Linked DNA regions of Homo sapiens: all the other regions are linked to region 2. Evidence: fine-mapped expression QTL. A gene starts in region 2. Each other region holds a variant in brackets. All regions are shown on one strand. Distances are between the middles of the regions.

Evidence for each region. PIP is the estimated chance that this variant, and not a neighbour inherited with it, causes the effect. A credible set is the group of variants that fine-mapping cannot tell apart.
Region 1: its variant is the best candidate, but not a certain one, in a credible set for the expression of SLAMF6 in lymphoblastoid cells (GTEx, PIP 0.61).
Region 3: its variant is the best candidate, but not a certain one, in a credible set for the expression of SLAMF6 in whole blood (INTERVAL, PIP 0.83).

The regions. Positions count from the first base shown.
Region 1 is chr1:160,495,384-160,503,309 of GRCh38, reverse strand. SLAMF6 (SLAM family member 6) reads left to right here. Exons shown (of 8, transcript NM_001184714.2): 2 at 6,917-7,249. Among named protein-coding and RNA genes, the nearest start is that of SLAMF6, 24 kb to the left of the region's middle. The variant G/A (reference allele first, on the strand shown) is at 4,237.
Region 2 is chr1:160,519,802-160,527,727 of GRCh38, reverse strand. SLAMF6 (SLAM family member 6) reads left to right here and starts at 4,473. Exons shown (of 8, transcript NM_001184714.2): 1 at 4,473-4,584. The coding sequence starts at 4,536. RefSeq lists an enhancer at 4,639-4,688.
Region 3 is chr1:160,454,515-160,462,440 of GRCh38, reverse strand. No RefSeq gene overlaps it. Among named protein-coding and RNA genes, the nearest start is that of VANGL2, 58 kb to the right of the region's middle. The variant T/C (reference allele first, on the strand shown) is at 4,043.

The DNA of each region.
Region 1 (7,926 bases), 24 kb after region 2:
TTCCACACTCATTTATTGATGACTTGTCAGTTTCCTAACAAATTCCTCATAGCAGCTTTTACATGTCTCATCCGTCTTCCTCTAGATTCTATGAGATCTACTTCTCTTAGAACAACTTTGAGAAAAACATAAGCGAAATATTCCAACTTCTTCCCCTTTACCCTCTAAATCTTTTGAGATCTTTAACCTTATTCTTTTCAGTCTCAAAAGAAAAGGAGAACCACGTCTACCCAAGACTAACCTCTTCACTTATGCTCCTAAGCCCACCCTGGCTTCCTCCTCAGAAATGACACCGTTTTGAATACTCCCTTTCACCATATCTTAAGTTTTTTCTTTTTCTCCCAGCTGCTTCCCTTTGCTCCAAATTTGCTCAGGACTCTGTTACCTAAAGAGTAACTTCCATTTGTCCTACCTTCTCAATATCCTGACTATGTTTCTCCTCCCTTCTCTTTAAATTCTCTTGAGAAATCAGCCCCTACTCTCTTTCATACTGCATTTGCCTCCTGTGGAGCTAACACAGCTTGCTATATTCCTGTTAGCTATAGATGGGCCTAAGCTAGTCCCTCAGGTTAGAAACCCAAAGTTCCTTGACTTTTCTCTCTTTTTCAGAATCTGCTTAGTTCTACCTCTCTCCTCTCTTTCCTAAGACACTGCTCTCTTTATACTTTGCCAATTTTCAAAAATACTTCATGTTTTTTAATACCTTCCAAACTAACCCTCCACTAATCAGGTAACCCTTAAAAACTTCTCTATTCTAATTCCAATCTACTTAACATTCACTGAGTTCCCTGGACCAGGTTATGGGGAAATACAATGCTGACTAAGATATTATTTGAGTTCCCCAAAACACATCATACAGTAGATGAAACTTGTAAACAAATGTACCCCAAATGTCTGCTGTCTTGACATCCTCACCAGTGGATGGGCAAGACCTCAGCATCACCTTCATGTTGCAAGGAGTTCCCCAGTGACTTATGAGAGTCTCAAAGGAAAGCTTCCCATGAGTCCCCAAAGCAGCCTACGAGTTGTAGCCAACATGAGGCATCTTTCCCATTCTTAATCTCCTTTTCTGGTTCTAGTCCCCCACACAGGATGCCAGCAGAGCCATTTAGATGCCCTGCTTATTCCAAGAACATCAATGTCCATGCCAAGGGTGCTGGTCCCGGATGCTCCCAAAGCATCAGTGTTGATTCCTGGCAGAGCAGAGAAAAGGACCTCCATGTGCCCTCTGGGCCACACCACAACACCTTGGCCCTGAAGCAGCTCTGCTCCTGTCCAAAGTCTCATGCAGGGTCTTTTAAACATTTTCAGTAGCATCTGACCTTCACTGTCCCTAAGCATATTGTCTCAAATCTAGTTTTGCTTTGGTTTGGTTTTGGGTCTGTGGGGAACTATTCCTACCATCTCATCCATCCTGTGCTCCTTCTCCCTTTGCTTCACCACAAACTCCTTTCTCCCCTTCCCCATGTACCAATGCAAAACCCCCATAAATATAAGAGGCAAACAGATATTTTAGCTCATCCTTGAAGGATAAATAGGAGCTTACCATGTAGGAAAGATGAAGAAAGGCATTTTAAGCAGAGGGAAAAGCAGTGCAAAAAAAAAAAAAAAGCAAGGCATTATTGGAAGAATTACAAATAATTAAGTAATGGAGAACTCATAGCTTTTATTCAAGACTTTGCTACAGTGTCATCTCCTGTGAACTGTTCCCTGACAACTCCCAACTCTTCCCAGTTCATGATTCTCTAAATTTTTGCTCCCATGGAGCACATATCTCTAACAATTCAACATTTATTGAGCTAGAAATTGTGTGCTAAGTTCTAGGAATATAGAAATAATAATCAGAATCCCTGACCTCAAGATTATGGAAAAGAAAAGAAAATAATCTTGTAATTATAACAAAGAGAAAGAACTGCTTGCAATTGCATGTATAACTGCAATAGTGATACGAGGGCAATGCAGAGGCAAGCCTTACACTAGCTCAATGCCCAACCCACCACATCAGAACTAACTACTCATTTACCTGTCAGGCTCCTCTATCAGATGATGGACCCAGAGGACTGACAGTATCTTATATTCCCAGTTTCCAGTCTAGAAACTGGTACATAAAACAGACCTAATAAATATGCCATGGTTCCTAAGGTTTTACTAATTGAATTAGCATGGAAGTTAGCAAATATTAGAATATTTGAACACCAGAATGAATAAACAAACAAACAAATAAATAAATTTCTGTGCTTGTCTTTGCAGATTGGCTCTGTTTTGGGGCACTCCTTTAATGCCTAGACAGGCTACCACTCTGCCTTAGCCTTGACTTTCTTCTTGTAAGCAGCATAAATAGCCATAGATAAAATCTTGTTACATAAACTAATTATTTCAATCTATAAAATCAATGGAACTTAAACAAGCGTTCCAGGCAAGGGAAGAACAGCTCCTGGTGAGTCCTTAGGCCACTGAGTAAGCCCAGACTCCCTACCAAAAGGAACTGAGCTTTAACATTCTAGACAGAAAACCTCCAAGAGAAGGGATGGAGATATGTCCATTCACTCAGTAAATATTCATGGGATGCTTACTATGTGCCAGGTGCTGTTCAAGAATGTTCACAATAGTAGACAAAACAGACAAAAATCTTTGTCTCCATGGAGATTACATTCTAGTGGAGAGGTGAGAAAATAAACAAAAACAAATATTTAAATTATAAAGTATACTAGATGGTAAGTACTAGATGGTAAATCCAAAGGCAGCTGGATGTGCAAGGGTGGATGGGGGCTGATGGTGCAAAAAGAGTGGTCACACTTCTTTAAATTCTCTGAGCAGGAATGTTTGCATTAATGACTTTATGGAGGCAAAAGAGTGAGCTGCATGGATACTTGGAGAAAGTACATTCCAGACAGAAAGGATTGCAAATGCAAAAGCCCTGGCCTGCTCAAGGAATAGCCAAGGGGGCTGGAGCAAAGTGAACAAGGGGGAGAATATAGGAATTAGGTCAAAGAAAGAGAAATGGCCAGATCATTTTGGTCCTTATAGACCATAGACATGATTTTGTTTTGCTCTGCTTTTGTTACTGTTTTAACTTTTTAAACTGAAATACAAAGAGAAAAACTATACGAATCTTAAATGTCAGCTCAATGAATTATCATAAAATGAACAAATCTGTGTAGCCAAATACAGATCTAGAGATAGGACATTATCAGTATTCCAGGATCCTTCCTTTATACTCCCTCCTATTCACCACCTCTCCCTCCTCAAAGGTAACCACTCTCTTGACTTCTGACAGCATAGATTTGTCTGTTTATCAACTTTAAATAAATAGAATCATATATTTGTATTCTCTGGTATCTGGACATTCTGCTCAAAATGTTGCTTGTGGTATTCACCCATGTGATTCAGAGGAAAGAGGAATAAAGATGACAAATAACAGTGTGTTAAAATGCTGATGGGAAAGATGTTGATGACAGCAATGTTCATGTGCCTGGAACCCATATGACAATTCATGAAAGAGAGAGGAAGTGCAAGCTCACCCAGGAGCTGAGCACTAGGACTCCAAGAGACATTTCCTTCCCTATTCAGCTCCTCCTATAAGAAATAAGAAACCCTCAGAAATGACAACTTTCCATGCTCATGGATTGGAAGAATCAACATCGTTAAAATGGCCATACCACACAAAGCAATTTCTAGATTCAGTGCTATTCCTATCAAACTACCAATGTCATTCTTCACAGAATTAGAAAAACCATTCTAAAATTCATATGGAACCAAAAAAAGAGCCCAAATAGTCAAAGCAATTCTAAGCAAAAACAAAAAATCCAGAGACATCACACTATCTGACTTTGAACCATACCATAAGACTATAGTAACCAAAACAGCATGGTACCGTTACACAAACAGACACATAGACAACTGGAAGAGAACAAAAAACTCAGAAATAAAGCCACACCCTTACAACCATCTGATTTTTGACAAGGCCAACAAAAGCGAGCAATGGGGAAAGGACTCCCTGTTCAATAAATGGTGCTGGATAACTGGCTAGCCATATGCAGAAGATTGAAACTGGACCCTTACCTTTAACCATATACGAAAATTAACTCAAGATGGATCAAATATTTAAATGTAAAACCTCAAGCTATAAAAATCCTAGAAAAAAATAGGAAATACCCTTCTTGACACTGGCCTTGGCAAAGAATTTTTGGCTAGGTCCCCAAAAGCAATTGCAACAAAAACGAAAATTGACAAGTG[G/A]AACCTAAGTAAACTATAGAGCTTCTGCACAGCAAAAGAAACTATCATTACCGTAAACAGACATCTTACAGAATGAGAGAAAATATTTGCAAACTATGTACCCAACATAAGGTCTAATATCCAGAATCTATAAGGAGCTTAAACCAATAAGCAAAAAGACGAATAACCCCATTAAAAAATGGGCAAAGGACATGAACAGGCACTTCTTAAATGAAGATATACAAGCACTCAGCAAACATGAAAAAATGCTCAGCATCAGTAATCATCAGAGAAATCCAAATCAAAACCACAATGAAATACCATCTCACACCAGTCAGAATGGCTATTATTAAAAAGTCAAAAAAAAGAACACAATAGATGCTGGTTTGGTTTTTGATATGGTTTGATTGTGTCCCCACCCAAATCTCATCTTGAACTGTAGAGCTCCCATTATTCCCACATGTCATGGGAGGGACCTGGTAGGAGGTAATTGAATCTGGGGGTAGGTCTTTCCTGTGCTATTCTCATGATAGTGAATAAGTCTCATGAGTTCTGATGGTTTTATAAAGGGGAGTTCCCCTGCACATGTTCTCTTTGCCTGCCACCATGTAAGACGTGACTTTGCTCCTCCTTCACCTTCCACCATGCTTGTGAGTGCCATGGCCTCCCCAGCCATGGGGAACTGTGAGTCAATTAAACATCTTTCCTTTATAAATTACTAGTCTTGAGTATGTCTTTATCAGCAGTGTGAAAATGGACAAATAACACTTTTTTGACTTTTTAATAATAGCCATTCTGTCAGAATGACAGCTGGAAGAGAACAGAAAATTCAGAATACACTAATACACTTTTTTGTATTTTTGTATAGCCATATGCAGAAGATTGAAACTGGACCCTTCATTCTTTCAGAATGTCTATTATTAAAAGTCAAAAAATAAAAAAAAAACAGGTGCTAGGTCCCACTTGGTGAGGTTGCAGAGAAAAGGAAACAGTTATACACTGTTATTGGGAAATATAAATTTTCACTGTGGAAAGCAGTTTGGAGATTTTTCAAAAAACTTAAAACTGAGCTACCATTCAACCCAGCAATCCCATTACTGGGTATATAGCCAAAGGAAAATAGATCATTATACCAAAAAGACACATGCACTTGTATGTTCATACTATGCTATTCATAATAGCAAAGACACAGAATCAACCTAGGTTCCAATCAATGATGGATTGGATAAAGAAAATTTGGTATATATACACCATGGAATACTAACCAGCCATAAAAAAGAATTAAATCATGTCTTTTGCAGTAACACGGGTGGAGCTGGAGGCCATAATCCTAGCACACCAACACAGGAACAGAAAACCAAATACTACATGCTCTCACTTATAAGTGGGAGCTAAACACTGAGCACACATGGACATAAATATGGGATTAATAGACGCTGTGGACTACTAGAGGGGGAAGGAAGGGAACAGGTAATGGGTTGAATAACTACCTATTAGTTATTATGTCCACTATCTGGGTGTGATATACCCATGTAACAAATCTGCACATGTACCCCCATATCTAAAATAAAAGTTGAAATTTTTAAGAAAAAGAAGCAAGAGATCCTGAGAAGGTTGAGGTAATTGTTATAGTTATTCATTCATTGACCCACTAGAACATTTCCACAGACTCTACTATGTGTCAGACATGGTGCTGAGTACTGACATGCAAGGCTAATTAAGGCGTGGTCAGTTAGACAAACAGGTGAACAAAACTACAAAATAGTGTAATAATTGCTAAGAATTTGGGAAAGGATGCTAAGGAAGCATCTTCTTTAAGAATCATTGTGACCATTTCACCGTTTTTGCTTAAACATTGATAGTTCTGAATAAGTTCACAAGAATGTGGCCATCATGTGTTACTTTGAAATTATATTTATTATTTCTATATGTATCCATTTTGTCTCCTCAATAACTAAACTATAATCTTTCTGAGAGAATTAAAAAAAAATCTTCTGGTATCATGAAGACAGCACAAAGTCACTGGAGTCAGAAGACCTGGGTTTGAATCCTGACTCTGCTATTCTTTAGCTGTGCAACCCTGGGAAAATTAGTTAACTTTTCTGTAGCTCAGTTCCTTTATCTATAAATGGAAGTAATAATATCCATCCTGCCTGCCTCACAGACTGTAGTCAGCGTCAATGAAATAATATATAAGAAGAACTGACTATCCTATAAATCCCTGATATTAGTCCCTGTTACCAGCCTTCTAAGTTGCACAAGCCTACTATGTTGGACACACAGTAAGTAATCAGTAAATATCAGGCTTTAATTATGCTTTATTAGCAAAGACTTGCAGTTTTTGGAGTCTATAGTTTCCTGTCCCCCTCAACCTAATGTCCAAGGACTTCAGAGGCTAGGATCACAAAGTATAGTTATGACCTAGGAGTGACCAGCCAGTGTAGGACCCAGCGTGGACTGGGCCGGTTTCATCTAGACTAGCTGCCTACTAACCAAGAGTGGCTGACATTTTGCTGGAGGTGAAGCTCTGGGACTGTGATTATTCATTTAGAAACATCTCCTACCCTTTCCTACTCTGTCATATCTCTGAGTTTTGGTATCAGAGAGCTCTAACAGACTGGCAGCGTTAGGTGAAAGGGTGCAGGACTTGGCAGGGAGATGGTCAGGAACATTTTTAAAACCTTTCCTTCTGTGTTTACAGGGAATGTAGTTTCACAAAGCAGCTTAACCCCATTGATGGTGAACGGGATTCTGGGGGAGTCAGTAACTCTTCCCCTGGAGTTTCCTGCAGGAGAGAAGGTCAACTTCATCACTTGGCTTTTCAATGAAACATCTCTTGCCTTCATAGTACCCCATGAAACCAAAAGTCCAGAAATCCACGTGACTAATCCGAAACAGGGAAAGCGACTGAACTTCACCCAGTCCTACTCCCTGCAACTCAGCAACCTGAAGATGGAAGACACAGGCTCTTACAGAGCCCAGATATCCACAAAGACCTCTGCAAAGCTGTCCAGTTACACTCTGAGGATATTAAGTAAGTCAAAATATGGGGTTTAATTCCATATGGACTGAAAAATATACATGTATTCCAATCCTATGTGACTTCAAATGTGCACTGTCGCCTAGTGGTAAAGAATATGGCATTTGGAGTCATTGAGTCAGTGTCAACACAATGACACTGCAAAGCCAGTTAATGACAGAGCTGAAGACAGAGCCTAAGTCTTGTGTCCCAGCCCAGAATTACTTCACTCCGATAAAATGGTCTTCTTCAACCAGAAATGTAGCAGAAGTAATGGAAGTCAAATATTTATGATAGTGTTGCCTTGTGCACTACATGTATTTGCCATGTAATTCTCACAAAGACTCCATGAGGTAGGTACAGACCTTATACCCTTGAGGCACAGCCTCAGTCACAGTGATTTGCCTACAAGTCACAGAGATAGTAATGGTAGCACTTCCCACATAACTACCTGCCACGACACCTCCCTTTTCACAAAGGCTAGTCTGACCCAGTAGAGTGGTCAGTGTACAGAACAGTGGTCTACCTAGAAAGTTATCTGCAAAGATAGGCTGATAATGAGAAACATCCTTTCTGTCAAGGTTATTTAATTTTTAACAATATTTTCCCCCGATGGCTCATATTAATCACCAGTCAACAATCTGCCTTCCCAAGATTAAAAAGAATGAAAATGTTATCAACATAAAATTATG
Region 2 (7,926 bases):
AAGATAAAAAAGGACAAAGAAAAGCATCACATAATGGTAAAGGGATCAATGCAACAAAAAGAGCTAACTATCCTAAATAGATATGTGCCCAATACAAAGGACCCAGATTTATAAAGCAAGTTCTTAGAGACCTACAAAGAGACTTAGACTCCCACACAATAATAATGGGAGACTTTAACACCCCACTGTCAATATTAGACAGATCAATGAGACAGAAAATTAACAAGGATATCCAGGACTTGAACTCAGCTCTGGAACAAGAGGACCTAATAGACATCTACAGAACTCTCCACCCCAAATTGACAGAAGACACATTCTTCTCAGCACCACATCACATTTATTCTAAAACTGACCACATAATTAGAAGTAAAACACTCCTCAGCAAATGCAAAAGAATGGAAATCATAACAAACTGTCTCTCAGACCGCAGTACAATCAAATTAGAACTCAGGATTAAGAAACTCACTCAAAACCACAAAACTACATGGAAACTGAACAATCTGCCCTGAATGACTACTGGGTAAATAAAAAAATTAAGGCAGATATAAATAAGTTCTTTAAGGCCAATGAGAACAAAGACACAATGTACCAGAATCTCTGGGACACAGCCAAAGCAGTATGTAGTGGGAAACATAGCACTAAATGCTCACAAGGGAAAGCAAGAGAAATCTAAAATTCACATCTGACATCACACTTAAAAGAACTAGAGAAGCAAGAGCAAACAAATTCAAAAGCTAACAGAAGACAAGAAATAATTAAAATCAGAGCAGAACTGAAGGAGATAGAGACACTAAATACCCTTCAAAAATCAATGAATCCAAGAGCTGTTTTTTGCAAAGATCAACAAAATAGATAGCTAGTCAGACTAATGAAGAAAAGAGAAGAATCAAATAGACACAATAAAAAATGATAAAGGGGACATTGCCACTGATCCCACAGAAATACAATCTACCGTCAGAGAATACTACAAACACCTCTACACAAATACTAGAAAATCTAGAAGAAATGGATAAATTCCTGGACACATACACCCTCCCAAGATTAAACCAGAAGGAAATCAAATCCCTAAATAGACCAATAAAAAGTTCTGAATTTGAGGCAGTAATTAATAACCTACCAACCAAAAAAAGCCCAGGACTAGATGGATTCACAGCCGAATTCTACCAGAGATACAAAGAGGAGCTGGTGCCATTCCTTCTGAAACTATTCCAAACAATAAAAAAAGAGGGACTCCTCCCTAACTCATTTTATGAGGCCAGCATCATCCTGATACCAAAACCTGGCAGAGACACAACAAAAAAAGAAAATTTTAGGCCAATATCCCTGATGAACATTGATGTAAAAATCCTCAATAAAATACAGGCAAACTGAATCCAGCAGCATATCAAAAAGCTTATCCACCAGCCGGGCATGGTGGCTCGTGCCTGTAATCCCAGCACTTTGGGAGGCTGAGGTGGGTGGATCATGAGGTCAGGAGATCGAGACCATCCTGGCTAACACAGTGAAACTCTGTCTGTACTAAAAATACAGAAAAATTAGCTGGGCGTGGTAGTGGGCACCTGCAGTCCCAGCTACTCAGGAGGCTGAGGCAGGAGAATGGCATGAACCCAGGAGGCGGAACTTGCAGTGAGCCAAGATTGTTCCACTGCACTCTGGCCTGGGCGACAGAGCAAGACTCCACCTCAAAAAAAAAAAAAAAAAAAGCTTATCCACCACAATCAAGTTGGCTTCATCCCTGGTATGCAAGGTTGGTTCAACATATGCAAATCAATAAATGTAATTCATCACATAAACAGAACCAATGACAAAAACCACATGATTATCTCAATAGATGTAGAAAAGGCCTTTGATAAAATTCAACATCCCTTCATGTTAAAAACTCTTAATAAACTAGGTACTGATGGAACGTATCTCAAAATAATGAGAGCTATTTATGACAAACCCACAGCCATTATCATACTGAATGGGCAAAATCTGGAAGCATTCCCTTTGAAAACTAGCACAAGGATGCCCTCTCTCACCACTCCTATTCAACATAATATTGAAAGTTCTGACCAGGGCAATCAGGCAAGAGAAAGAAGTAAAGGGTATTCAGATAAGAAGAGAGGAAATCAAATAGTCTCTGTTTGCAGATGACATGATTGTATATTTAGAAAACTCCATTGTCTTAGCCCAAAATCTCCTTAAGCTGATAAGCAGCTTCAGCAGTCTCAGGATACAAAATCAATGTGCAAAAATCACAAGCATTCCTATACACCAAAAATAGACAAACAGAGAGCCAAGTCGTGAGTGAACTGCCATTCACAATTGCTACAAAGAGAATATAATACCTAGGAATACAACTTACAAGGGATGTGAAGGACCTCTTCAAGGAGAACTACAAACCACTGCTCAAGGAAATAAGAAAGTACACAAACAAATGGAAAACCATTCCATGCTCATAGATAGGAAGAATCAATATCATGAAAATGGCCATATTGCCCAAAGTAATTTATAGGTTCAATGCTATTTCCATCAAACTACTATTGACTTTCTTCACAGAATTAGAAAAAACTACTTTAAATTTCATACAGAACCAAAAACGAGCCCATATAGCCAAGACAATTGTAAGCCAAAAGAACAAAGCTGGAGGCAGCACGCTAACTGACTTCAAACTATACTACAAGGCTGCAGTAACCAAAACAGCATGGTACTGGTACCAAAACAGATATATAGACCAATGGAGCAGAACAGAGGCCTCAGAAATAACATCACACATCTACAACCATCTGATCTTTGACAAACCTAACAAAAACAAGCAATGGGGAAAGGATTCCCTATTTAATAAATGGTGTTGGGAAAACTGGCTAGCAATTATGCAGAAAACTGAAACTGGTTCCCTTCCTTATACCTTACACAAAAATTAACTCAAGATGGATTAAAGACTTAAATGTTAGACCTAAAACCACAAAAACCCCAGAAGAAAACCTAGGCAATACCATTCAGGACAAAGGCATGGGCAAAGACTTCAATACTAAAACATCAAAATCAATGGCAACAAAAGCCAAAATTGACAAATGGGACCTAATTAAACTAAAGAGCTTCTGCACAGCAAAAGAAACTATCATCAGAGTGAACAGGGAACCTACAGAATGGGAGAAAATTTTTGCAGTCTATCCATTTGACAAAAGGCTAATATCCAGAATCTACAAAGAACTCAAACAAATTTACAAGAAAAAAAAAAAAACCCCAACAAAAAGTGGGCAAAGGATATGAAGACACTTCTCAAAAGAAGACATTTATGCGGCCAAGAAACATATGAAAAAAGCTCATCATCACTGGTCATTAGAGAAATGCAAATCAAAACTACAATGAGATACCATCTCATGCCAGTTAGAATGGCAATCATTAAAAAATCAGGAAACAACAGATGCTGGAGAGGATGTAGAGAAATGGGAATGTTTTCACACTGTTGGTGGGAGTGTAAACTAGTTCAACCATTGTGGAATACAGTGTGGCGATTCCTCAAGGATCTAGAACTAGAAATACCATTTGACCCAGCAATCCCATTACTGGTTATATACCCAAAGGATTATAAATCATGCTGCTATAAAGACACATGCACACTTATGTTTATTGCAGCACTGTTCACAATAGCAAAGACTTGGAACCAACCCAAATGCCCATCAATGATACACTGGATAAAGAAAATGTGGCATATATATACCATGGAATACCATGCAGCCATAAAAAAGGATGAGTTCATGTCCTTTGCAGGGACATGGATGAAGCTGGAAACCATCATTCTCAGCAAACTAACACAAGAACAGAAAGCCAAACAACGCATGTTCTCACTCATAGGTGGGAACTGAACAATGAGAACACATGGACACAGGTAGGGGAACATCATACACTGGGGTATGTCACGGGGTGGGGGGCAAGGGGAGGGATAGCATTAGGAGAAATATCTAATGTAGATGACAAGTTAATAGGTGCAGCACACCAACATGGCATATGTATACATATGTAACAAACCTGCACATTGTGCACATGTACCCTAGAACTTAAAGTATAATTTTAAAAAATCAGTTTTCTTTTGGCTTTTTCTTAGCTTTATACTTAAATATTTTTTTCTAATGTAATTAGAGTGGAATTGTTTTTTGAATTTTATTTTTGGATTACTCATAGCTAGTATATACAATTGCAATTGAATTTTATATTTTGATTTTGTATCTTTTCACCTTGCTGAACTCATTTATTTGTTCTAGTAGATTTTAGGAAATTCCTTACAGACTTTTACATATAAGTTTATGAAAGATGCAATAAAGGACTTTATCTTCTTTTCCAAAAAAAAAAAAAATTTGTGCACTTAGCTCAGAAAAAAGTAAACAAAAAATTAACACAGTTACAAATTAGGATTTTTAGTGCAGGGGAAGAAGTTGTCACCACGCCTCTAAGAGGAAGGGGAAGTCTCAGAAGTATTTTCAGTTTATGACAGAAGGGCAAAAACATTGACTGCCTCAAGGTCTCAAGCACCAGTCTTCACCGCGGAAAGCATGTTGTGGCTGTTCCAATCGCTCCTGTTTGTCTTCTGCTTTGGCCCAGGTAAATGTCAATCCAGATCGGTGTAGTCACTGAGTGACTCCCTGGTTTTGTGCAGCTTGCTCAACCTAAATCGTCTGTATACAGTTGTCTGGCTCTCTGCCAAGGGATTGGGGCGGGAAAGGGGACGCTGGCAGTGTTACCTGATATACTACTACCTCCTCTCAACTTTGGATGCGATAAGCCTGAGATGGTTGTCGGTGAACAATTTCAATTGTGTCTGCATGTAAGAAAGTTATTTGCTGGGGCAGAGGAAATAAGCTTTTGAAGACAAGACTGTTTGTGGTTTATGACCAGCATCTTGTGTTATAAAGAGTACCAAGACCAAGAAAATGGGCCCTCATACCAATGTATCTACTATCGTACTGTGAACCTCAGGGAGGTTACTTATCCTTCCTGAACCTCACTATCCTCATCTAAATTATTAAAAACCTATTATTCAGTTGAGCCAAATTTTCTGGGCCCAACCAAACACACCAAAAATAACCCTCTCACCTTTTGCTCATTGCAAAAAAAAAGGTTTCCATCTCTCCCCTCCTTTAGTGCAAATTAGGGCTAGCTAGTCCAGCAATGCATTATATATGGCAGTGAGAAAAGAATGAACTGATCCAGCTGGCTTCTTGTTTCCTGCTGTCCATTATATGGAGAAGATGAAGATTCATATCACATTTGGGGAACTACAAGTGGTCCACGGGAGACAAAGTGTAGCATTCAGGCAGAGATAGTCCAGGAGACCAATGGAAATCTAGTCCAGAGCTAGCCCAGGGTAGCAGATAAAAGTAGGAAGCATTCACTGAGCACTTATTGTATTTCAAGTATTGTGCCAGGTGCTGTACACACGTTATGAGTCTCATGAGAATTCTATGAATTTATACTATTAATATCTCCATTTTAAAATGAAGAACTGAGGTGAACTTAATTTAAATAATTTGCCCAAATTTCATTAGCCAGCATGCGACAAGCTCTTGTAATAGTTATGAGAAAAAATAACAGTTCAACAAGTGTGGCAGCAGCATAAGAGAAAGAAGAGACTGAAGCAAGAGATCCCATCAATATGGAGTTAAGTAGAGTAATTGGTAATTGGAATGAGAAAGGAATAAATATTCATTGAGCACCTACTGAATGCTTGGCACTCTTCTAGTTTGCATGAATACATCATGAACAAAGCAAGCAAAAATTCCTGCCCTCATGGAGTTAACATTTTAGCAGGAGACAAACTGTAAAAAAAGATAAACAAGTAAAATAGTGTATTGGGTAGGAAGAAATAAATCAAGAAGGAAAGGGAGAGATGAAATATGGTAAAGACGGCAGTGAAATTTCAGACAGGATAGCCAAAGAAAGTGACAAAATTGGAAGGTGGAGAGCAGCCACAGGAGGAAGGTGAGTTCAATTTTGGACCTACTGATTTTAGGATGTCAGTGTGCTATACATGAGGAAGTTACGTGGAGGATCCTGGGAACTTAGGACTAGGGGTAGAGCTGAGGCTAGAGACTTAAAAATCAATGGCATAGAGATATGTTAAGCTGAGGAGAAAACTGGAATGAGAACAGAACTTTGGGAAATATATATAAAATGCAGAAAGAGAGAGAATTCTTTCCTTCATTCAAGAGCCACTTCCTGATCTAGGAGCAGAATCTTGAGTTTTTGCTTCATTTTTACCACCCTGCAAAATTATTTCCACCTCTAGAATAAAATATTCTGAATGTCCTTGTGTTAAAACTCCTCTTCTTCTCCCTATTTCCATGAATACTTCTTATAATGACCCTATGAAATATACAGTGCTCCAATCTCCACTTCACAGATGGGGAAAGAAGGCACAGAACACTAAAGTAACTTGCTCACTGCCCCACATTTATGGGGGAAATGGGTATAGAAAGAGAAACACATTTGAATGAGTTTACAGGAGGCAGATGCAGGTGTTCTGAGACCCAGGAGGAGAGAAGTGGCTGCTAGAATTGGAAATCAGGAAGCTTGGCTCCGGAGTCTGTGCTCATAGCCACTTCACTATGCTACTTAGCTTACACACAGTCATACATTCACACAAATGTGTACATAATTAGAAAATGTGAGGCCAGCAAAAAAAATAAGCAGGGCACCTTCATAGAGAAAAACACGGGGACCTGCTTTGGACGGAGTGATGAAGAAAGGACTTCCTGGAAAAGTAACATCTCATCTGATATTTAAAGGGTGTGAAAAGTTAAACAGGAAAAGTCAAATGAAGAAGATTTTAGGGCAGAGGGAATCATGTGTGAAAAGCCGTGATGCAGGAAAGAGCCTGGAGTGATTTAGGAAGGGAAAGAAGACCACTGTTGCAAAAATGTGGGGCAAATGAAATTAATCTTTGAAACAACCATGAAAAACAATGACTCATGCCAGCCTACATTCTTTGAAGTGGGTTGGGCACTATCCTGACTCCTTTTAGAAAATTTAGTGGAAAAGACAAACCATATTGAAAAATAATCCCATTTCCTTTAACTCAAGCCCTGGGTGGCAAAACTAACAGAACAAAACAATAATTGTAAATAAAATCAAGCATCATGACTTCCTAGAGAAAATAAATCTCGTTTGTTTCTTCATTTTGATTTTTATAGATGGAAAGTTGGAAATTTGTCAAACTTAAATGTGCATATAAATTACTTGGGGGAATCTTATTAAAATGCTGATTGGGGAATAGGGACTGAGATTCTGCATTTCTAAGAGGCTCCCAGGTGACACCAATGCTGCCTGTCCATGGACCACACTAAGCAGCAAGGTTCTAAATTCCAATGGACTTCAGTCATACTGGGATTGTAGGGAGGAAGAAATAGAAACTAACTTTGAGTGTGTTTGCAGGAAGCAGATATAGGTATTCTGAGGTCCAGGAGAGAGCAGTGGTTGGAAATGTAAGTAAAGCAAACACATGAGGGCTGATTCTGAGGTTGAGTCAAAATGTGCAATGCTCTTCTGTGAAGAGATTGTGACCTGATGGCCCCCGAGCAGTGTTATCTACTTTTTACCAACCGTCCACATCTTTCAAATGTTTATTGTGCTCAACAGGCAGAGAGCTGTTTTATATTTTTTCATTATCCTCAGACACGTGTTTTTCCACCTCTCAGAATCTGCAATCTCCAATGTGACCTCCAGGTGTTCATGCCTCTGTTTTTGGTCCCTTAACCCAGATTCAGCTTTGATTGTTTCTCTGTTCACACTCAGACATTTTTTATTAAGGTGAAATTCTTGTAACAGGATGTAATAATTTTAAAGTGACATTTTGTACATTTTGTGAAACCACCACTTCTATTATTCTAAAACATTTTCATCACCCCAAAAGGAAACCCTGTACCCACTAAGCAGTCATTTCCCATT
Region 3 (7,926 bases), 65 kb after region 2:
TCCATGCTGCTTCATCAGAAGCATGGACCCAGCCATCAAAAGAACACCAACACAAGCCTGACGATTTGAGGATAAGGGCAGGAGACTACAGCAGAGGACAGACTAGGAAACAGATTAAAATTGAGTTATTGGCTGGGCGTGGTGGCTCACGCCTGTAATCCCAGCACATTGGGACGCCAAGGCAGGTGGATCTCCTGAGGTCAGGAGTTCAAGACCAGCCTGGCCAACATGGTGAGACCCCCATCTCTACTAAAAATACAAAAATTAGCTAGGCATTGTAGCACGTGCCTGTAATCCCAGCTACTCGGGAGGCTGAGGCAGGAGAATCACTTGAATCCAGGAGGTGGAGGCTGCAGAGATCCGAGATAGCGCCATTGCACTCCAGCCTGGGTAACAGAGTGAGATTCCATCTCAAAAATAAACAAACAAATAAATAAATAAAAGTTATTTAAATCACTGTCCTCAAATTCCTTTGGTCATCCCTGCACAGGAACTTTCTCTTTGGGTACTATTTTCCTTAGGCCCCAGCATGTACCCTTCCCGGGAGCCTACTGGGTCTCACTCTCCTTTTCTCCAGGTTCCAGACCCCCAAATCTAGTCACATGAGTCAATAGCTAAAATTTCAGGATTTCTGCAAGTTAGCTGTTAAGCATCCCGTCAGTAACTAAATGCTGATATTTAAATAAATTATATATTTTTAAAAGGGTAGTAAGTACTCAAATGCATCACTTCTTAATTATTTTACTATCCTTTACTATTCTATGCTCTTGAGAGGATTTACATCTACTGCACACACATAGAGGAAACACTATATAATGGTGCACATCTTTTCCTAACTCAGTGACTTGATGGAAATGCTACCACAGAAATGGACAAGTGCTACAAATCAGAGTTTTAGAGTACTTTGTATTGTTTGGTTGTTGTTGTTATTGGAGAGGTGATTGTTAAACGTTTACCAGCACAAAACTCCCCCACTCTTCCAGGAAAAAACTGAAACACACCTGTCACTCCAGACTCCAGTACACAGACCAATTTAAACTATTTTTACTCACAGTATATCTCTTTTCAGAACATGCTATGGGGCCTAGATCTGAACAAAGTGGCCCGTTAAGGAGTTTGTCTAAACCCAATAGCCTTCTACTTCTCAGATGAGTTTTACCAACATCCCTAAAATTTGAAACAGCTGCCATGGTTTTTTTCAAATAATCCATTTACTAATCTTTGCGTTTTCCTCTGTTTTCTTCAAAAGCATATATTGAACACAATATTCAGTGTTAAGATGCCTCATGAGAAGCTGGGGTGAAAGAAGAGGGTAGAGAAGTGTGTTGCAACTTTGGAAAAACTGAGTCTCCCTCAAAGAAGGGGGTTAGGAGGGTTAGAGTTAGAGTTGTTGTTGAAGAAAAACTCCCAAAAACAAAGCTAGTGGAAACTCTTTCTCTCTGAGGGGGATAATAAAAGTGAGGGGAGCACCCCTTCCATTGTTCATGAGTCATTTCCTGTTTTAATTCTTCCTGTTTGTCCTTGGTTTTTCCACAGTAAATGTCGACTCCACCTTTCACTCTTACCTCCCCTCCTGGGTCATGATGATCACGGCCCAGTATTGCGTGAACATGTTGGTGGCCTGAAAGCACTCTGAGGATGAAAACTGTTAGGGAGCCAGAAATGACTTCTAAATCTGCAAACTGGTCTGAACTGTTTCTTCCTTCTTTGATTTTATTTCTCTTTCCTTCTTTTTTCCTTCCTTCCTCATGATCTTCCCCCACGCCTCCCTTTCTATCCTTTCTTTCCTTCTTTTGAGTGTTGCTTTCAGTGCTTTAAATGTTTCTCCATTGGGAATTGCTACTACAAGGACAGGAAGTAAGGTTTTGAGCACAAGATTTTGACATTGGTCCACCAGCAGCATGAGAAAGAGACAAATAAGAGAAAGGAGCAAAACGGTGTTCCTTTGAAAGCGGAACCCTAAAAATGAAACTTCTTAGCCTTGTTTACCCTTATCCAAATAACTTCTGAGTAACTACCTCTGAGAATAATAATAGCTATCCTTGGTGTGGCTGCTTTCTTCTGAAGTGTTCAAATAACTAAAAAGAGCAGGAACTTTGTCGTGGGGCGCTCTGAGAGTAACGCTGGCCACTCCTTGCTGGCTGGCTGGCTGGCCCTGTGTGCTTTGCACCCCCTCTTCCAGCAGTCTCCCTGGCACAGTTTGACAGTCAGTAGCCAGCATCATTGTGATTGGCCAGCAACTGCGCTGGACCAGTTGCTAAATATTTTTTAGTCAACTTTGATTAAATTAAATAGTGTCTGTAAAAAGCCTATCACAGAGCCTGCCTGGCATATAGTAGTGGGTGTTTAAACATTTTTAGTTCTAACAAATTTTTCCTACCCACCCACCTTCAAACCTCATTATCAACACAGTTCTGTTGGGAAGCAGGGAAAAAAAGTATTATTATTATTCTTATGTGACACACTTACATAAAGGAAAATTTAGGTGCAGAGGTGAATGGACTAAGAACACAGTCGTGAGTCAGAGGTACCAGTGCTTGAACAAGACTCCCCATGCCAACTCAGAGCATTAACCAAAAGACTCAGGACTCTGGTAATCAATTAACAGTTTCAAAGTGGAACGAGCACTAACTTTGGAGTCAGAAAAAATCTGGGTTTAGATTTTTCTGCCACTTACCATGAGACCTTGAACAAATCACTTGACCTCTCTAAGCCTGTTTTCCCATGTGTAAAATGGGACCAATATACCTAAACGATTACGTGAGATAATGCATGTGTAAAAGGATTTAAAATGAGATTCTTTCTTGTTTAGTTTGAGCCCAGGCTCCAAAAATCAGTTAGCCTTGGTGTGGTTGCTTTCAAAACAAAACAAAACAATAGATGCTAAGCTCTCCCCACATTACAAAGCTTGCCCACTTTTTCAGGGATTGACAAAGGAGATGACCAAAAGCTGGCTTTGTGGCTCTTGGCACATCACCCATATCAGGAGTCGAAGTTGAAGAGAAGGAGGGGAGAGGATTTCTCCATAAAGAGTCATTGGAATGCTGTGCTACTATGGGGAAGGGGGGGCGCCCTTCCATGGGGAAGGGAGACTTTCCCTTCACTTCAAGCCAGCTGAATGAGCTTCAACAGGACCATAAGTGGAAGATCACTCAGAGTGACATTTGTCCTCTGGAGTTTGGCATATATAAGGAATGTGAAGACAGGCTGTTGATAGATGTGCCTGAGGCCACACAGCAGAGAAAGAATGAGGACTGACCATCTACAGATGGTAGGAAAACAATGCAGAAGTGTTTCCCAAGACCACACATAGACTTTCCAAGTCAGAGTTGGCCAGGAGTCTGTTTGAAAGCTCATTATAGAGTGATAACCATAACCAACTCTGGGAAGCTCAGTCCCGGAAGTTGAAGTGAAAACCAGCCAGTCACATAAGAAGCACCACCTACCTCACAGGAATTACAGTTAAAAGTTCCCAGCAAAGGAATCTTTGAAGAACCTAAAATATACCCCATGGGAAAACTAGCCAGCAATTGTACATCTGCTCCATTCCTGGTCACAAAGGCATATAAGCTGCACTTAAGCCTCTATTCCACATCCTTTCCTGACATGGCTCCCATGGTCACCTCTGGCTCCAAATTCCTGATTCAGTTGAATTAGTTCAGATTACAGGTCATTTGACCCCTTGTGGGTGTTTCCTTATTTGTTACCACCTTAAACCTAGGCAAGGCCCAGCATCCTTGCCATAATTTTCACCTAAACAGCCCGATGTACACAAGGCTGCTGCATGGATGGAACATTCTGGTTATACTGAATGTTTTTGAAAGAGGCATTGGTTTACACTGAAGCAACACAAAGTGGCAACTATCATTTTATCTTCCCATCAAGAATTTCCACCTCCTTTCTTCTCATTAAAGACCCTTAGCCCCAGGCAAAAACAGAGGTACATGACCTGTGTGGGATAATCATGGTGCTCTATTTCCCTGGCATTGACAAGGGATGGACATGTAATCCAAGCCGGGACAATTATAACACATCCTTGGAA[T/C]TGTTATATGGATACTTAGAGAAAAAAGCTCTCTATGGTTGCTGAGCTGAGTCTGGCTGCAACCATGTCTCCTTTCTGTCTCTTTCACATGGCAAAGTCCTTTCTGTCATAGGAAAATGTGAGGTCAACATGGAAAGGGAAACAGAGTTAAGCAGAGATGAGAAAGATAGGAAAGGAAAGGATGGAGTGAGGGAGAGAAAGAGATTTGGCAGCGTTAATTCAAGTTTCTGTACGGTGTCTGCCGCTTTAGTTTCTATAATTCTTCCTTGGATGCAGCAAACAATCCTGGAATCTTTCCAAATGTTGTGAGCCACTAAGATCCCTTTTTTGTATAAGCTTCTTGGAACTGGGTTTATGTTACTTTCAAACACCAGAAACCTCAATAATACAGCAAAAAGTTTCCAATTAAACGTTGGGTATCTCTAACCTTAAAAGCCCCTTTTTCCATTCTATCCCCAGGGATTTTCACTCCATGTACCTCTCTGGTTTTATACCCTCTTAAGGCTTTGCTCCTTCCTCCTTCCCTTTCCTGTTTCCTCCTAGGATCAAAACCAAATTCCTTCCTTCCTCTGCTTATGCAGAACAATTCAGCCATTTTTTAAAAACTCTATTGGTTCCTGAAGTCCATGGCCACATCTTTTGCCATGAGTGGTTTATCAGGATATTTTCCCAAAGACAGTTCAATACAAGAAAAAGTCTTGAGCATTGTATTGGCTATTAGAGAAAAAAATCCAATCCATACAGTCTTTCTCTAACAAGTTTTTGGATAGTTGGTCAGGTAAATTATTTAAGTTTTCTCACCTATAAAGTTACATTTTAGAGTTAAAAAGTCTGTATAGATAAGCTAACCCAAGCCCTTTAATAAGATTAGAGAAGGTAAGTAGCTTGTCATGTACTATAAAGAAGTTAGTAGTAATGTCATGATTAGGACATTGGTGCCGAATTTTGGTCCAGGGCCTCAAGACCCCAGAAAAAAAGAACAAGCCTTTATGACTTGACTATTGTCATAATTTAGGTTGATTTCAGTTTGGAAACTTAGTATCCAAAAGAGATCTCCAAGCTTCAGTCCCTCAACTATAACATGGTAAAAAATAGATCACCAGTTCTCAAACACTTTTAGATATGGAATCTTTTCTTTTTATTTTATTTTATTTATTATTATTATTATTTTGAGACAGAGTCTTGCTGTTATCAGCCCAGGCTGGAGTGCAATGGTGTGATCTCAGCTCATCACAACCTCTACCTCCTGGGTTCCAGCAATTCTCCTGCCTCAGCCTCCCGAGTAGCTGAGATTACAGGCGCGTGCCACCACACCTGGCTAATTTTTGTATTTTTTTGTAGAGATGGAGTTTCACCATGTTGGCCAGGCTGGTCTCAAACTCCTGACCTCTGGTGATCCACCCGCCTCGGCCTCCCAAAGTGCTGGATTACAGGTGTGAGCCACCTTTTATTTAAGTGAAATCTTATACTGATGGGAAATAAAAATAAAATAATGGTAATAATAAACGTGTTAGCTCAGATCCTCCAGGAAGCAGATGCCAAAGATTTATTGGGGGAGATGGCTGTGAAGGAAAAAGAAGATAGAGATGGAGATGATAGGGAAACTCCTTAGACCATGTAGATGCGAACCCTGGGAAAAAGAGAGGAAAGGAAGAAGGATTAAGTAAGAATAGTCTCAGACTTCTGCACTGTTCTAAGATAGTTTCAGGCCAGGTGCAGTGGCTCACGCCTGTAAGTAATCACAGCACTTTGGGAGGCCAAGACAGAAGGATCACTTGAGCTCAGGAGTTCCAGACCAGCCTGGGTTACACAGTGAGACCTCATCTCTACTAAAATTCAAAAAAAATAGCAGGGCATGGTGGCACATGCCTATAGTGCCAGCTACTCAAGGGGCGGTGCAGCAGGGTGAGTGGGGGCTGGCAGTGCTGAGGTGGGAGGATCGCTTCAGCCTGGAACGTCAAGGTTGCAGTGAGTCCTGATCATGCCACTGCACTCCAGCATGGGTGACAGAGTGAGACTCTGACTCAAAAAAATAAAAGTGTCAGCCAGGCTGATGGGGAGTCCTCAAGTCAAAGTCACCCATCAGAAGAGTCTGCATCTTGCAGAAAAAGGTCTGCATTCACATTTGTACCACATTTAATCATTGGTTAGGAGCAGCCCATTAAAAGTCTGGCTTCAGTGGAAATACAAGGTAGAGTCAGAGAACAGCTGCTGGAGTCACCAATCAACTGCCCAAAATAAAAGGCCTGACATGTACTTTCATGGCTGCTTCAATTTAAAATATCTTTTAATTTTTTAAGTAGAAGGAAGGGAGGAAAAAATTGAAATAGTCACCGAATATTCCAAATTTGGTGAAACTATAAATTCTTATAACCAAGAAGCTCACTAAATCCCAATCATAAGAAATTTAAGAGAAGTATGCCAAGGAACATCATAATCAAATTACTTAAAACCATTAATAAAAACAAAAATTTAAAAGCAGACAGAGAAAAAAGACACAATATGTACAAAGGAAGAAAGGTAAAAATGAAAGCAGACTTCTTGGCTGGGCGCGGTGGCTCACGCCTGTAATCCCAGCACTTTGGAAGGCCAAGGTGGGTGGATCACCTGAGGTCAGGAGTTCAAGGCCAGCCTGGCCAACATGGCGAAACTCCATCTCTACTAAAAATACAAAAATTAGCCGGGCATGGTGGGGGGCACTTGTAATGTCAGCTACTAGGGAGGATTAGGCTGGAGAATCACTTGAGCCTGGGAGGGGGAGGTTGCAGTGAGCTGAGATCAGGCCATTGCACTCCAGCCTGGGCGACAAGAGCGAAACTCAGTCTTGGGGGAAAAAAAAAAAAAAAGAGACTTCTCAATGCAAGCCAGAAGACACTGGAGCAACATCTTAAAAGCAAGGAGGGAAACACACACACACACACACACACCTGTCAACATAAAATCCTATACTCAGTGAAAATAACCTTAAAAAAAAAGGTAAAATAAAGACTTTTGTAGACATACAGAAGCTGAAAGAATTCACCACAAGCATATCAGCGCTGTAAGAAATGTTACAGGAAGCCTTTCAGGAAGAATGAAAGTGATCACAAATGGTTTTATCAGAGGAGGTGGCACAGCTACCACTGAGCCTTTTCCTTACCCCTCTCCTGAGGTGCTCCCAGTGGGAACTTTGGAGATGCCTAAGGATGCCTAAAAACCACCTCAAGTTATTTCTAATGGTCTTTCCAGTTCTTGCCTTTCAAAATGACTTAATTCTGGATTGTATATTTTCTCTTGGGCATTTTGCCTATAACAGAATGAACACCCATCCAGTAATGATGAGTTAAGAGTCGTGAATGAGTTATGGTTTCATGATGCAAAGAGTCAGGAATCATAACTTAATGAGATGATAGTTCAGAAATTGTCCTTTTTTCCAGTGCTAGTGATAAATATCAAGTATTGTTTTGATCATCAGCAATCAGGGATGTGGCAGAGGAATTTCAAAGGGGAAGAATTTGTGCTAGAACTCAGAGTCAGGCAAAACTGATAGTACGAATCAGGGCGTATAGTAGTTGAAAGCATACTGAAGTTGACTATTGGGAAATTGAGGGCTAGGCCAGCTCCACACAGTTGCGCAAGTTTGAGACTCATTCTTCCCTCTGGACCTCAGTTTCTTCATATTGGGATGTTAGCTAAATGACTCCAAAAACCCTTCCAAGTCTAACCACCTGTGATTCTACAAGTGTGACTGAATTCAGGCTAGTCTTATACTGCCTCCGTCTACCTCACTCTTCTTCATCTGACTAGTTACCAGCAGGGAAATCCCTCCAACCCCAAAATAACCATTATTTTCATAATTCAACTATTAAAATGAATAAATTTTAAGTTTGAAAATCTCTCTTCAA